Regions from separate parts of the Homo sapiens genome. Here all the other regions are linked to region 1. The links come from fine-mapping of genetic effects on gene expression. A gene starts in region 1. Each other region holds a variant in brackets. All regions are shown on one strand. Distances are from middle to middle. Region 1 holds the start of STIM2 (stromal interaction molecule 2). Region 2 overlaps STIM2 (stromal interaction molecule 2). Region 3 overlaps STIM2 (stromal interaction molecule 2). Region 4 has its middle 34 kb from the start of STIM2-AS1.

Region 1 (2,764 bases):
CTTAATTGCCTTTTTCAAGTGTCTCTCTTGCCTAACCCTCACCACTCAGTACTCTGCCTGGCACATACTAGGTACTCAGTAAACATTTAATAAATGAAATGCCTCCTGGAGAGCAGGAACAAGCTTGTTATTTATATTGTTCTGGTCCCCTAGCAGAATTATCTTCTCTGGTGGGCACTCAGCACTCTGGTGTGACTTCATCGCTGTGCCTTTCAGCAGGGGAAATATAATCTCCCGGTTGCCCTATAAAGAATTGCCACCTGAACACTATGCCCACAAGAAGTCTGCTGAGAAATAACTGTTGATAGATTGACTTAGCCTCAAAGACATCCTTGATTCTTTTCTAAAGTGTGCATCTGCCCTTCCACAATAAACGATATTTGTGGTTATCTTGGCCAGGCTACCTAAGAAATACTTTAGGAGAATGTAATTTGAGTATCTTCTTGGCTTGAGAAAGCAAGCAAACAAACCAATAAGCAGAATGAAACCAACAAAACCCAATAGCAAAAGGATCTTCGTGTTTAATAACCCTATCTGCAAATTTTAAACAATTTTGTGCCCCTGGGAGAAAGAATGCCTCCTTGCGTGTGAATTTCCAGGGCTTTTAATTTATAGTGACAGTACATTCAACACTTCCTTTTAAATTTGAAGGGAGGTGGCCTTAAAAATATGCTGGCAACTAGTTTGGATGAGAAAGATTCCGGTTCTTTATTTATTCAAACCAATTAGACCAGGTCTGAACAGGATTTACAACAGAGAGCAGATCTTGGGTGCACAAGAGCTTTGCTTCATTCCAGGTTGGCGAAAACAAGTCAAGTCTACATCATTGTTCTGTCAGCCGGTTCAGGATACAGCACAGAGTCGATGGGATGGGGGTGGGAAGGTGATGAGTTCAGGTAAATGTACCTAGGAGAGTCAGAGGCTAAAGTAAATTCTCTTAAATAGGCCTTTTCAGTGGCTGCTAAATCTCGCTCATTTCCCATGAATTAGCTGTGGGATATTGGGGACAACTTACTTCACATTTCTAGGTCTTAGTCTCTTCATTCGTAAAAGGGGGTAACGATAATTTTGGAGTTATAGCATGTAAATGTGTAAAACGGTTAGAGCAATGCCTGGTACACTCACACATAGCACGCGCTTTGTGAAATGTTTGGCAAGTAAATAAAACGCTAAGCTATGCTAACCGCGTCTAAACAGCCAGCCACTTGTAAGCCCCACCTATATTGAAATTACGGGGACGCTGCTGTTTTCCGATTGCAAGATTTTCCTGATCCATGCAATTACTTTCGCTGCCCTCTACGAGGCTGAAACTCGCCCTCAGGATGTGGGACGTCTGGACTCTTCTCTCCGTCCCCTTGTAGCCCCCCACTCCCCCTCGCGGTGGTACCGTGAATGAGGGAGAGGTACACGTCCCCCTTCTTCCCCGCCTCCTATCTTCGCGGCTCGCTAAAGCGTTATCAGCCGCCCCACGGTACTACCGTCCGTCTAGGAACGCCTCCGGGGCGGGGCTGGGATGCCGCGCACGCGCAGTACAGCAGCGCCGCGCCTGCGCCGTGGAGAGCCTGAGGGAGGCGGGGGATTGGTATGCGAGCGAATGTGCGAGGGGAGGGAGGCGTCCCGGCGGAGCGTGGTACTACGACCAGCGCGGGCCGGAGGGGGCGGGGGGATGCGCCGCGGCGGCGGCGGCGCGGGAGCTGGGGTTGGTGTTTGGCGGCGCCAGAGCAGCGGATCCCGGTCTCGCCGCAGCAGCAGCGCGGGTGTCGTGCACCGCCTGAAGACGCCGTACCTTTCTACCCCCCACCTTTTTTTTTTTTTTTTTTAAATAACCGGAACCAATGAACGCAGCCGGGATCAGAGCTCCGGAGGCCGCCGGTGCCGATGGGACCAGGCTGGCGCCCGGCGGGAGCCCGTGTCTGAGGCGGCGGGGGCGGCCGGAGGAGTCGCCGGCGGCGGTGGTGGCGCCTCGCGGAGCCGGCGAGCTGCAGGCGGCCGGGGCGCCGCTGCGCTTTCACCCGGCTTCTCCTCGGCGCCTTCATCCCGCCTCGACTCCTGGCCCAGCGTGGGGCTGGCTGCTGCGGCGGCGGCGCTGGGCTGCGTTGCTGGTGCTCGGGCTGCTGGTAGCCGGAGCGGCGGACGGATGCGAGCTTGTGCCCCGGCACCTCCGCGGGCGGCGGGCGACTGGCTCTGCCGCAACTGCCGCCTCCTCTCCCGCCGCGGCGGCCGGCGATAGCCCGGCGCTCATGACAGGTGAGGGGCCGGGGGGCGGCGGGCGGGGCTCGGCCGGCAGCGATGGGACCCCCAACCCGTGCAGAGGTCAGCATCTCCGCCGGACGTCCGCTATTCCGCGGCTCCGGCCAGGGCGCGATGCGGAGCCCTGCCTGCTGCTTCGTCGCGGTCCCCTGCACTCCGGACGTCTTTCCTTTTCACCCCGACACCCCGCCCTCGCCGAGCCTCTCGACGGCACTGATTCCCCTCCCTTCAGTCGGGCTCTCCGATCTTCCAAGCTGAGCAATGCGGTGGTTTCTCTTTCGTGCTGCAGAAGTGCCAGCAGGGTCTGCAGGGGACTGGGCTGATTTTTTTTTTTTTTTTTTTTTTGAGGCTGCTAGAAAAAGTCAGCAGCAGCATTGCGGTATTGAGTCTACCTCTGGTGCTGCTTTTGCAAAGGCAGCTGGCAGCGAGTCTCACCGGTTCAAAGCTCCGCTTGAGCACAGCGTCCCAGGGGAGCCTGCTAAAGGGGATTCTTTGAGAGCCATAATACCTAGTG
Region 2 (2,500 bases), 75 kb after region 1:
ATGGCCACTGTTTGCAGGTTTCTTCATCATATAGCACATTAGTTGCTGACCTTTTAATGATGTCCACTGTGCATTTTATGATTAAAATTAGTTCTGATACTTGTGATACCTGTAAGAAGTGGTAATATAAGAATAGAACAAGGCTAGGCGCGGTGGCTCATGCCTGCAGTCCCAGCACTTCGGGAGGCCGAGGTGGGTGAATCTCCTGAGGTCAGGAGTTTGAGACCAGCCTGACCAACATGGAGAAACCCTGTCTCTACACAAAATACAAAATTAGATGGGCATATTGGCACATGCCTGCAATCCCAGCTACTCAGGAGGCTGAGGCAGGAGAATCACTTGAACCCGGGAGGTGGAGGTTGTAGTGAGCCGAGATCGCGCCATTGAACTACAGCCTGGGCAATAAGAGCGAAACTCCATCTCAAAAAAAAAAAAAAAAAAAAAAAGAACAAAGTTCACTTATTTATACTAGTTTAGGGAAAAAAAGCAGAGAATGAGTGAGGCAGAAAGTGTAGATATCATTTTGATAAGGGAAGACATGATTAAACTTTTTAAAATATCTTTTCCTATAAATTTGCCACTATGTCTTTATATTTTAGCTGCAAATTCTATTTTAAAATTTAATTTATATCTGGATTGTGGATGTCTGTTGATCTGAAGAGACCCAGGAAGTAATGATTTTGGACGCCATTGATTAGGAATCTGGAAGAAAGATTCTTATGTAGGTGGAAGTCATCTTATAGGGTATGTGTAAGGTATTTTGGTCTTCAGCAACTCACCAAAGCGTGCTGAGCATTACATACTTGTTTGTCATTTTGGTTACCTCTTCTTTGTTTACGTATATGTAACTATAGTTTAAATTATTCAAAATGAGATAGGCACTCTATACATCTTTTAGAAGCAAGATATTAAATAGAAAAAGGTTAGGGCCACCCTAATACTTCTCATTTAGCTTACAGAGTGAGAAAGGAGGGAAAGAAGTAGATGAAAATGGAGTTGGTGTAGTTCCAAGAAATTGCTCTAAGGAGTAAATAAATTGATGCTCCCTTGACAAGCAGTATTAACTTAACAT[G/A]AAAACTTGTTAGAAATGCAAATTCTTGAGCCCCACCCCAACCCTACTGAATCAGCAGCTTGGGGATGGGACCTAGCAATCCGTTTTAACAAATCCTCTGGGTGATTCTGATGAAGTTTGAGAACCACTAGACTTTCAGGACTCTGATAGTAGCCAGAAGCTCTTTATCTTGACCTTTTATGAGTAGACAGTATAGTTACAAATCTTACTTTTTTTATGATTAGGTCTTTGAAAATATGGTTCATGACTTACTCTTTGTACCTTGATAAATCTTAAAGTTTTGCATTATATTTTTACAGTTCTTTTAATCTCAGGCACAATATTTATAAATATAAATACTACTGTGATGCTCTTGCAAGATACCTTGTTTTCTGCTCCTGTATTTTGTGACTTTACTTTTGCCAAGTTCAACCTTAAAAATTTCTTTGTATGTTTTATAGGAAGTCATTGACATTCAGTTACTATAAAGCAGGGTTGTATTTGTCTTTTTTATGTGGGGGAGGATCTTTTGGTTTTTAAAGTAAGATGGTTCTGTAACCTAGATGGTTAAGAATCATTGTGCAAGTTATTGAGACAGATTTTAAGAAAACATCTGATGATTTTATATTAGAATATTTCTTACTTAAATTGTGAAACTTCTACCTGGTCCCAGCATTTATTTAGTTTAGTACTTATGTCCTTATGTCCTGACAATTATAGTAACCTATTTACTGGAGTTTCTTCTCTGTCTCTTGCTTTTCCAGTTCATTTACCAACTGCTGTTGAGTTATCTTTTTGTTTATGACATTTGATAAGAGCTGATCCTCCCAGAGCATTTGTGGTCATGTATCTGCTTGTCCCTCAAAGCAACCACAATAGAAAACAGCTTTCTCTTATTCTACTGTTTCTTATCATCCAGACTATCTAATCTCTATGCTTGAGTTCTGATTTATTATTGGGGGTTCCCTCTTGCTGAGGCTGTCTTAGTCATAGGCCATTTGAGAAACACCATTGGTTGTATATAGTTCAGTTATATACAGATTAAATAGGATTTTGTGAACTAGGAAGTTAAACACCATAACATAGTTTCTGTGGAAAGATATGCTTCACTTAGTGGATACATACTCTTAAATGCAACCTACTTATAAACTGAGAATAACTGACTGTAGTATGAGATCTGTGTATGAAGAACCAAAAACTTCTGAAATCATTTCATAGTATGGAGCATCGAAACATTCAACCCAGTGCCTTTTGCCTTTTTTGTTTGAGACAGCATGTCGCTCTGTCACCCAGGCTGGAGTTCAGTGGCGTGAACATGACTCACCACAGCCTTGACCTCCTGGACTCCAGGCATCCTCCCACCTCAGCCTTCCAAGTAGCTGGGATACAGTCATGAGCCACCATGCCTGGCTAATTTTTATATTTTTTGTAGAGATGGGGTTCCAGCGT
Region 3 (2,500 bases), 27 kb after region 1:
ATGTTAGGGAAAGTATATGTGTGTTTGCTGTTATTTAAGGTGGTCAGGGAAATCTTCATAGTTGACATTTGACAAGAGAGAAGGGAGAGACAGAGGGATGAGACCCTTCAGGTGGAGAGAATGGCATGTGCATGGGCCCTGATGGATACCATTGTTGGATTTTTGGAGAAACTTCCAGGAGACCACAGGGCTGGTGTAGAGTAAGCAATGGAGAGAGTAATAGATAGATCAGAGAGGTTGTCTGGGCTAGAATGTACAGTCTTGTAGACATCATCTACAAGATGTGAGGACATTGTCATTGTATGTCATGTACTCTGAGATGGGGAGCTACTGCAGGGTTTTTGAGAAGTGTGACATGATTTGATTTATGTTTGGAAATGATCACTTCAGCTCTTTCACTGAAATGACACTCTAGAAGGTCTAGTCTTAGAGCAGGGAGACCAATTAGTAGGCTTTTGTCCGGGGAGAGAAAGTGCTAGAGCTCCCTTGTTAGCTATGGAGGTGGTAATAGGTGGTATAGGTGGAGCTATATGTGGATGCTAAATACAGTGAAAGCCCTTCTGTTCTGTTGTCCTGAAAATCAAGTTCATTGTTATATGAACTTTATTGTGAAGTAAAGACATAAAAGCTTATGCCTTTATAGGATATAATTTAAAGAGCTAGGAAATTGGAACAACCCGTAGTGTTCAACTGCTGAATGTTACAAGATACAATAAGCACCAAACCAAATAATTAAACTTTTTTTTTTTTTTTTTTTTTTTTGCCTCTTGCCTTGTCCGTGATCCCTTTAAAACTTAGAATTTATTTGAGCTTTTTTTCTTTACTGTTTTGTTTGATGTTGCTTTCATTTTCTACTTGGGTTAAGATGTATCTTGCTAATAATCTAAGATCACACCGTGCTGTTACAGAATTACAGACTTTGATTGAACTCAAGGAAGTGGACAAAGCCTAAAGCTCAAACTGTCTGCTAATTACAGGAACTTCTC[C/T]GGTGTATCCCTTATAGACTGTCATTCATTAGCTCCTCAGATACTTTGGGTGGTTGGGAACTTATTGCTCCTGAACAACTTTTCCATTAGTAGGCAGTTCTGGTTTGTGAGAAGTTCTTTGTTGCATTAAACTAAAATCTTTCAGTACTTTCTTTGGGTTCTAGATGTATCCTTTGAAGCAAAGAGTGGCTATTTTTTCTCTTAATGTTTTAAAAGACCCTGTATTAGGGTTCTGTACAGAAATAGAACCAGAAGGAATGAATGTATATGTTCATTATTACAAATTAATAATATAATTTTATATAGTGCATATCTGTAATTATATTACCAATTATTTAGTTGCACTTAAAATACTCAAAGATGTAACTTAAAATAATTAATTGTTTTATACATGTATCTACATATCTACATAGATAGACATAGGTAAAACATAGAGACTTATTTCAAGGAATTGGCTGAGGTAATTGAAAAGATCCAAATCCAAATCCAAAATCCATAGGATAGGCTGGCAGATTGGAAACTCTTGGGCAGGCGATGATGCTGCAGTCGTGGGGCAGAATATTTCTTTCTCAGAAAAGGCTTTCCTGCTGATTGGATCAGGCCCACCCACATTTCCAAGAATAATTTCCTTTGCTTAAAGTCAACTGATTGTAGATGTTAACTGTGTTTACAAAATACCATCACAGTAGCACCCAGGTTAGTGTTTGATTGAATAACTGGATACTATAGTTTAGACAAGTTGATACATAAAACTGTCATAGTCCATCCTTGTCAACTTGGCGCCCATACACATCTTCTTAAATGATACTTAATCTCCAAATGAACGCAATAACAAAGTCATACTTCTGCCTAACATAATATGAATATCCTTCAAACAACTGAAAACATGCCAACCCTTTCCCCAGAAGAGGATGCGGAGTCCCTGGGTAATGTTCATTCTCCCTAATAAGCTATAACTTAAATATCATGATGTAAAGTTAGCTATTATTAATATATCTTATGTCAGATGATAAAGGGATTAAAGAGCAAGAAAACAAAGATATTTGCTAAATATTTGAATACATTCGTTACAAAATAAGACATAACAGTTACAGTTTTCTGTGGCTGGTCACATGGTCGTAGCTGGTTTTTGTTTATGATTACCTTCTTGCACTATCCATTCCATTTTTCCCTTTCCCTTAGCAAGCACCTTAGCTCTTTGTGGTTCTTTGCCTGTTGGGGTGATCCAAAACTTTGTTCCTGAAGGGTCTGGGCATACCCAATTTAAGTAGTCCTTAAATTGGGTTATTGTAGTTTTCCATTGACTTTAATCACAGAGCATGGCAGTAATTACAAGATCTCTTGTATTCCGGACTTAGTCTTTTAATCACAGAGCGTGAAAGTAATTACAAGATCTCTCGTATTCTGGACTTAGTCTTTCATACCTCCATTGTATGGTAGCAGTTGAATTTCTTCTTAGTAACCAGCAACCCTGGTCAGTACACTAACCCTGGGTCTTCTTTGCCTGTTCATTC
Region 4 (2,764 bases), 34 kb before region 1:
TTCTCCTGCCTCAGTTTCCCGAGTAGCTGGGACTACAGGTGCACACCACCACGCCCAGCTAATTTTTGTATCTTTAGTAGAGATGGGGTTTCACCAAGTTGGCCAGGATGGTCTCAATCTCTTGACCTCATGATCCGCCTGCCTTGGCCTCCCAAAGTGCTGGGATTACAGGCATGAGCCACCACGCCTGGCTGATTTAGGATTTTTAAACTTTTCTTTCAGGAGTAACTAGGTATATAAGGGCATGCCTCATTAGTCAGTAATTTTTATTTTTTCAATGACATTTTCTTTAATTTTTCAACATTAAGAAAAAAATCCAGGCCATAGTGAATGTAGTTTGGTTGGAAACACTCATTGTTCACTGTTTTGAAGATTTGCTGCCAATTTTCTCTATCAGTGACCTGCCACAAATTAGTTAAGTAGCATGATCTGAGAGGTGCTATTGTGTGGTTATACTAGTTAAGTAAAAGGGGTTTGGAGCCAGACTTTTGGGTGCAACTCCCAGCCCTACCACTTAGTTGTGTGACATCAGAAAAATTACTTAAAAATCTCTGTGCCTCATTTTTCTCAACTGTAAAACAGGGTTAATAGTATCTCCTTCATAGAATTGTTATAATATCAGTAGGATGAATAAGGCCATTGAAACAGGGCCTGGTCCAAGTTAAGCCTGCAATAAACATTAACTATTAGTAATGGCATATGAAAATAGCTAAGCTGGCCGGGCATGGTGGCTCACGCCTGTAATCCCAGCAGTTTGGGAGGCTTAGGCGGGCGAATCATTTGAGGTCAGGAGTTCAAGACCAACCTGGGCAACATGGCGAAACCCCATCTCTACTAAAAATACAAAAATTAGCCAGGCTTGGTGGCATGCACCTGTAATCCCAGCTACACAGGAGGCTGAGACAGGAGAATTGCTTGAACCCAGGAGGCAGAAGTTGCAGTGAGCTGAGATCGTGCCATTGCACTCCAGCCTTGGTGACAGAAAGAGACCTTGTCTCAAAAATAAAAAGTGAAAAAAAAATTCAAAGATCATATTTTTGTAATAAAAGAACAATTTAATTCCCACTGCACATAGGACTTCGCATTCTGCCTGCCCATTGTTTAACTCTAGTATCAGGGAATTCCTGCCCAGCTGCTGGATACATATTCAGTGACAGCAATAATCATGAATAGAAGGATATTTCAAACAGTTTAAAGTTGATTTATATTTGTGCCCTTACTGTCTGCTCATAGTAGGTGAACATTATTTAGAGGGGGGAAAAATAAGTGTCATTATTACTAAGTTTTAAATTCTAAACAAAGAGATCATTCTTATTAAGATATTAGAGCTGTTACAAACATAAAATGCTTCTCATCTCTCTCCAATATACCTTTCAAAATTCTCTCTTTGAAAATCATTGTTATAGATGATGTCCGCGTGTATTTTGTTAGATTGAGTTTAGATCAATATTCCACAACCCTAACAATGAATAGAGTCCAGTAAAGTTTGGCCTAATGGCATTTCAAGGTCTATAACTGTTGGCGAGCAGGAAAGACTACTGTTTTAACTTCATGAGGGTTACTGCCCCGGTGGCGGGTGGATGTTTATAATGGTTCCGGGTGTGGGTGGTGA[C/T]GTAGATTCAGAGCATGGAGGAAAGTGAAGTGCTATTAGCAATAAAAGATAAACCCTTCCAGAAATAATAACTGTTATGAAACCGGAAAGAACCTCCCAGCCGTGCAGTTCAACCCCCTACTGAGATATGAGGCGAGGCAAGTCTCTCCCCTAAACTGGTTACATAATATTTTTTTCCTCAGGAGGTTTCACTACCTCTTTTATAAACTGTTAATGTGTTTATTGAATCGTATCATGGAGAAAGGAAACTAATGATTAACTTTTAACCATGATAGCTTGGCCTTGCCATGATACTTCTGGTGAACTGATGGAGACTGCTCTTCCATAGCCTTTCCTGGCTCCTTAACACAAATTCAATCACAGTAAGTGGCAAATGCTTATAAAGATGGAAAACACTTTATTTTCATCTTCACTTAATTAAAACAGCCAACTTTAAAGGTATTACTGTTTCAGGAATCTCTCTTCTTCATCACCAAATCTATCCTTTGGGTCAAAATCATCAGGCATTGGCAGGCACAGTGACTCACGCCTGCAATCCAATCATTTTGGGAGGCCAAGGGAGGCAGATCACTTGAGGCCAGGAGTTCAAGACCAGCCTGGCCAACATGGAGAAACCTCGTCTCTACTAAAATACAAAAATTAGTCAGGCATGGTGGCAGACGCCTGCAGTTCCAACTACGCAGGAGGCTGAGGCATGAGAATTGCTTGAATCTCGGAGGCAGAGGTTGCAGTGAGCCAAGATTGCACTACTGCACTCCAGCCTGGGCGAGAGAGCAAGACTGTCTCAAAACAAAACAAAACAAAATCAGGCTGGCACTCACCTACTCAGCCCTAACTTCAAGCAAATGTTTTTGAGGATGGAACCAATTTATTAGAGCTTTCTTTTTTTGTTTTTTGTTTTGTTTTTTTTTTTTTGATAGGGTCTTGCGATGACACTCAGGCTAGAATGCAGTGCCTATTTACAGGTGCAATAATGCACACTGCAGCCTCGAACTCCTGGGCTCAAGCAATCCTTCTGCCTCAGCTTCCTGGGTAGGTGTGAATACAGGCATGTGTGCCGCTGTGCCCAGCTATTTTATTAGGCTTTGAGATTAACGTAGGCCACCTGACAAATCCATATCTGAAAATACTTAAAATAGCTTTGAAATGGTT

The links.
Region 2: its variant is fine-mapped to the expression of STIM2 in whole blood (TOPMed, PIP 0.98).
Region 3: its variant is fine-mapped to the expression of STIM2 in whole blood (TOPMed, PIP 0.92).
Region 4: its variant is fine-mapped to the expression of STIM2 in lung (TOPMed, PIP above 0.99). The same link has a PIP of 0.9 or more in visceral fat.

The regions. Positions count from the first base shown.
Region 1 is chr4:26,859,123-26,861,886 of GRCh38, forward strand. It overlaps STIM2 (stromal interaction molecule 2), which reads left to right and starts at 1,719. Exons shown (of 12, transcript NM_020860.4): 1 at 1,719-2,247. The coding sequence starts at 2,097. It overlaps STIM2-AS1 (STIM2 antisense RNA 1), which reads right to left and starts at 1,477. Exons shown (of 2, transcript NR_134674.1): 1 at 1,388-1,477; 2 at 502-906. RefSeq lists an enhancer at 1,276-1,375 and silencers at 1,466-1,835, 1,846-2,415.
Region 2 is chr4:26,934,491-26,936,990 of GRCh38, forward strand. The region is part of intron 2 of STIM2 (stromal interaction molecule 2); the gene reads left to right. Among named protein-coding and RNA genes, the nearest start is that of STIM2, 75 kb to the left of the region's middle. The variant G/A (reference allele first, on the strand shown) is at 1,073.
Region 3 is chr4:26,886,446-26,888,945 of GRCh38, forward strand. The region is part of intron 1 of STIM2 (stromal interaction molecule 2); the gene reads left to right. Among named protein-coding and RNA genes, the nearest start is that of STIM2, 27 kb to the left of the region's middle. The variant C/T (reference allele first, on the strand shown) is at 987.
Region 4 is chr4:26,825,204-26,827,967 of GRCh38, forward strand. It overlaps a transcript of TBC1D19 not described here. Among named protein-coding and RNA genes, the nearest start is that of STIM2-AS1, 34 kb to the right of the region's middle. The variant C/T (reference allele first, on the strand shown) is at 1,613.